Linked DNA regions of Homo sapiens: region 1 is linked to region 2. The links come from fine-mapping of genetic effects on gene expression. A gene starts in region 2. The other region holds a variant in brackets. All regions are shown on one strand. Distances are between the middles of the regions.

Evidence for each region. PIP is the estimated chance that this variant, and not a neighbour inherited with it, causes the effect. A credible set is the group of variants that fine-mapping cannot tell apart.
Region 1: its variant is the best candidate, but not a certain one, in a credible set for the expression of IL19 in testis (GTEx, PIP 0.87).

Annotation. Positions count from the first base shown.
Region 1 is chr1:206,841,615-206,844,541 of GRCh38, reverse strand. It overlaps IL19 (interleukin 19), which reads right to left. Exons shown (of 7, transcript NM_153758.5): 7 at 1,561-2,015. The coding sequence ends at 1,920. LOC105372878 (a long non-coding RNA gene) reads left to right here and starts at 1,721. Exons shown (of 3, transcript XR_922482.3): 1 at 1,721-2,033; 2 at 2,824-2,927. The variant T/C (reference allele first, on the strand shown) is at 1,662.
Region 2 is chr1:206,769,749-206,772,248 of GRCh38, reverse strand. It overlaps IL19 (interleukin 19), which reads right to left and starts at 1,476. Exons shown (of 7, transcript NM_153758.5): 1 at 1,171-1,476. IL10 (interleukin 10) reads left to right here. Exons shown (of 5, transcript NM_000572.3): 2 at 834-893; 3 at 1,190-1,342; 4 at 2,355-2,420. RefSeq lists cis regulatory regions at 1-44, 1-126 and an enhancer at 1,126-1,315.

The DNA.
Region 1 (2,927 bases), 72 kb before region 2:
TTTCATTCTAAAAACCTACAATAGGATTGTTGTGAGAATTAAATGAAATATATATATATGTATTTATATTATATTATATTACAAGAAGTGTATTTCTTAGACTATCGGCTGGCATATAGGAAGCACTATATACATGTTTGTGGTTATTCACATTTCTTGAATAAATAATCTAGGTGAATTGTGAATTTAACACCTACTAAGTGCCAGGCAGTGAACAAACTAAACCATCCCTACACTCATGAAGCTTACATTCATGTGGAGGAGCAGCTAATAAACAAAATAGGATGCTAGATAAACAGGAAAGGGGTACAAAGTGTGCTGAAGGTGGAAATGGGGGGTTATCCTCCAATACGAGACCTTTGGAGTGAAGGTCTGAAAGACGTGGAGGTGCAAGCCATGCAGGTGTCCAGGGGAAGCACATCCCAGGGCAGTGATAAAAGATCAGAAATGCTATAACTGCCATCACCCAGCCTGCTCAGGGTGGGTGCCCATCCAAGGTCACTTTGGAAAAGTTAGGTCCTCAGCAAACAACCCTGCTCCCTAATAGCGTATGAATCCCATTAACGCATAATGTGTGGAGGGTTTGTTTTATTTTTTAACCCTACCTCAGTTTATGAGTGTGCATGTACACAAAGTGCATACACTGTATGGTGAGAACATGCCTGGTGTGTTTGCGAAACACAGAGCAAACAACTATGGCTGGGTCACAGTGAGCCTGGGGAAGGAGCAGGGACACAGTTAGGGAAAACAGCCAGGAGGGGTGTGTGTGCAGATATCAGGGTTGTCAAAGCCCTCATAATGACTCCAGCTTTTAAATGATTATAGAGGCAGGTGTGGTGGCTTAAGTCTGTAATGCCAGAACTTTGGGAGGCCGAGGAGGGAGGATTGATTGAGCTAGGAGTTTGAGACTACAGTGAGCTATGACCATGCCACTGTGCTCCAGCCTGGGTGACAAAGTGAGACCCTGTCTCCATAAATAAATAAATAATTATATGGAGCAGGTAGTACAGAAGGGTCAGTATCCACAATACTAACAACTAAGGACCAAAGAAATGTACTGACCTGCCCTGGGAAATTCATGGCAGGAGATGCCTTAGAACCAGAAGGTGGCCCCTGAGTCGGCAGTCTTTATATTGCACCGTGCTGTCTCCCACCCTGCTGAGGTCATGAGAGACCTTTTCCTTACTCGATGCTCACAGCAACACTACAGGACTGGTGTTAATATCTCCACTTTACAACAGAGGACACTGAGTCTTAGAAACGTTAAGTGCTTTGTTCAAAGTCACATAGGATTGGAACCAGATCAATTGGACTTCAGAGGTCTTGTTCTTTCCATTAAAGCATGTGATATGAAATCTGAAAGATACACATTTGTGCTCTGAATCATCTATGCAGTGTCCATCTAGATGTTGGTACCCTTTTCAGCCTCTCTACCCAGTGGCCTCTCTACTTACTTGTGTCTGTGCTTGTTCAGCTTTGTCACCATGACAACCATCCCTCTGTCAGAAACACCCTGTCCTCAGTCTTGACTGACTCTCCCTGAATGAAAAGATCCTTCCATTCATAGGTAAAATATGGAATTTATTCAGAAAAACCACTCAGTACAATGTGTACTACAGGATATCACTTGGCTCACATCACAGACATGGACTATATGACTT[T/C]ACAATAAATTAGATGGGAAGGCAGCCCTTTACTCCCAGGATGGCCTGCAGGCCCTTTCAGCAGATAGAGTTTATTACAAATACCACAGTAGACTTTTTGGCTATTTTCAAGCGGAATAAGACAGCCTGAGGCCAGCCAGTGGGACTTTCAGCTGCAAGGGGCCTTCCCCATCTCCTTCCCCTTCAAGGTGGGCTGTCTCCCACAGTAAACCGCACAGGGGGTGTTCATCCCTGGATCACTATACAGGTTCCTTGTCATCAAGCTGAGAACATTACTTCATGATTCTTATTAATCCAGGCTAGAAAGACGTCGAGCTCTCCCAGGGATTTAATGGCAGCAGCGTGGACCTCCAGCTGAAATCAGAGATCAATGTAAGAACCCACCTTTCTAGACTGTGTAATGGTTTTCAAGTCACTTTCTTCATATGCTGGTTCCCACAAGGTTTTGTTTCTGTTTTTGTTTTTTTGTCACGAAATATATTTGCATAACATACAGACTCAATATTATTTTCCTCGCAGGCAACCAATTTTTTTCCCCACAAACAAGTAGTTAAATTATGTCAGCTCCTTATAAACAGAACTTTAAAATTCTTCATTCTTTTCCCTCAGGTTTTTTTTTCCTCTGTTTTTCACAGGAAAAAAAAATCTGCCTTACTGGCCAGTTCCGCTGATTTTCTTCTCCACACCAGCTTGCTTTAGTGCTTCTGTTATCCCAGAACATCTTTGTCCCTGAGGTGCTGGACAGTGGGTAGGGAGAGCATGTTGTCCTCATTTGACATATTAGAGCACTAAAGCCCCTAGAGCAAGTGTCCTACCCAATGTCACACAGCCAGTTAGTAACAGAGCTGGAAATGAAACCCAAGTCTCCTGCCTTATTCCACCTCCTTCCTCAGCAGACTGAGTTCATGCTTTTAGCGCGTCCTGTAGAGCCAGCCAGCGTGGAATTGAATCCTACCTCTGCCGTGCAGTTGCAGTGTGAACTTAGTTTAGTTACTTTACCTGCTCGAGCCTCAGTTTCTTAATGTATCCAATGCAGATAATGACTCATAGCATTGTTGGGAAGGACGAATGTGTGTTAATACTTGTTGTGTGCCTAGAGCAATACCTGGCTTATAGTAAGAACCATGTAACTCTTAGCTATTTCTATAACATTATCTTACAGAGTCTCTCCACAAAGAAGCAGAGCCCATAACAGACTCCCTAACTCTTGCTCTTCAAAGCATTGGTATCATTTGACAGTGTGATCTAAATGCAGAAACTCAGGCT
Region 2 (2,500 bases):
CTTTCTCTCTTCCTGGGACTGCCTGAACTAGACATTCTCCTGGAACTATAAGAACCCTCCTCCTGCGCCTCCACCTCCATCCCCAACACCTATTCCCCCAAACTTAAATTCTTAAGAGAATCCTAGATCAAGCCATGGGTTTGGTGAGTTAAGCTAAGCCAGATGATACAGTAAATGTGCAGGAAACCTGCCTTATAAAGTAAATGCGTTCTCTCTCGTGCTGAGAAACTTATAAGATCCTGCTGGCGCTCTATACTTTATTGGCTAGGAGAAGTAAAGAAATGTCTGATTCGAGGTGAAGATGCTCCCCATGCCTTGCAGCAGGGAAATTTAAATTGCCTCTGCTTAGAGCGTTTCCAGACCTGAAAGACCAGTGGTTTAGGGAAGCACTCTACATGAGGGAAACCTGCATTAGAAGGAGCTTCTTAATCCCTGGGATCTTTCCAAGCTAAACTGGATGTCTACAGTGGGGAGAAAGAAAAGCAGAGAACAGGACATGAGGGGGGCTCAAGGCCCCGAAGGGTTGACATAGGTGTCCCTTAAAGCCGAATGTAGCTCCGCAGAAAGAAGACCAGGACTGAGTCAAGCTTCTGCTTTCCCTTCAAAATCGGCCAGATTTTTTAAATAACTTGACTCTGAGGAGGAGGACCTGATTTAAGTGATGGTCCCATCACTGTTGAATCCTCTGTTTTTAAAACTCCCCTTTTGATTTTTTTGGGCCAGAGCCAATTTTATTTAAAAAAAAAAATCTCTAAATGAAAGGGCATCAAAAAGACCGCATTTCAGTTATTTCCCCAAACCTCAAGTTCATTCTCCTTTTGTTCTTCCTGCAGCAAATGAAGGATCAGCTGGACAACTTGTTGTTAAAGGAGTCCTTGCTGGAGGACTTTAAGGTGAGAGCAGGGGCGGGGTGCTGGGGGAGTGTGCAGCATGATTAAGGGAAGGGAGACTCTGCTTCCTGATTGCAGGGAATTGGGTTTGTTTCCTTCGCTTTGAAAAGGAGAAGTGGGAAGATGTTAACTCAGCACATCCAGCAGCCAGAGGGTTTACAAAGGGCTCAGTCCCTTCGGGGAGGCTTCTGGTGAAGGAGGATCGCTAGAACCAAGCTGTCCTCTTAAGCTAGTTGCAGCAGCCCCTCCTCCCAGCCACCTCCGCCAATCTCTCACTCACCTTTGGCTCCTGCCCTTAGGGTTACCTGGGTTGCCAAGCCTTGTCTGAGATGATCCAGTTTTACCTGGAGGAGGTGATGCCCCAAGCTGAGAACCAAGACCCAGACATCAAGGCGCATGTGAACTCCCTGGGGGAGAACCTGAAGACCCTCAGGCTGAGGCTACGGCGCTGTGTAAGTAGCAGATCAGTTTTTTCCCTTGCAGCTGCCCCCAAAATACCATCTCCTACAGACCAGCAGGGACACTCACATCCACAGACACAGCAAAGACACAGACTGGCAGAGCTAGCTGTAAATGAGGAAAGACTCCTGGAGTCAGATCTCTTGCTCATTTCTCTTTGAGCAGGCGTTGGGGGTGGCTGCTAGGCATTTACATGTGAAATTTGCAAACAGCTTTCCTGTTATTTGTGAGTCATTTGTGGGTTATTAACTACTCCCCTCTCTCTTCATAAAAGGAGCCCAGAGCTTCAGTCAGGCCTCCACTGCCTCTTTGTAACTAGACCCTGGGCGGGGAGCTAAGGTTCCCAAGCAGAGGAAACATCATTCACCTCTTTTAATCTCAATGTTTTGAAAGCAAAGCTCTAAGAAGGGCCCAATTGACTGACAGGATTTCCCCTGGCATTTTAGAAGGGACAAGGGGGCTATTCATCCCCAGGCTAGTGTCTATGAGTAATTCCTCCAGGTAATTTATTTCTCCAACTGAAATGATGCCCTCACTACTAATGGTTTCCCCTGTTCTGTCACCAATATTGGAAAATCAGTTGGTGTCTATTTGTAGGACAAGGCTATGTGAAGGGTTTGGTCCCAGTAGCTTCCCTCCTCAGATGCTTAGAAGTGTTCCTCGGTGGCTGTGACTGACGGGGAGGAACAGGAGAGAGAGGCAGAAAAGGACAGGCTGAAGAATGCCTCGCTCAGCACTGCAGGAGATACTGTAGAGTTCTGGGGGAGGAAGGAATCCCAAGACCTGGGTTGTCATCCAAGCCTTGCAAACATCTTGGAGTGAGTCCTGGAGAAATACATTTAACTCCCAGGGCCATGGAAGCAGGGCTCAGTTCTCTCTGGGAGCTGTGAGGCAAGGCATTTGGATAAATCTGGCCTCCTCATGATGCCACCAGCTTGTCCCCTAAGTGTGATGGACATGGAGCTGGAAGCCAGGATCACCAACACTTTCTCTTTTCTTCCACAGCATCGATTTCTTCCCTGTGAAAACAAGAGCAAGGCCGTGGAGCAGGTGAAGAATGCCTTTAATAAGGTGAGCTTGGATGGTGGCAGAGAGGGTCTGCAGAGCACAACCCATGCCCACTCCCCAACCCCAAAGCATGGAAGGTGGTG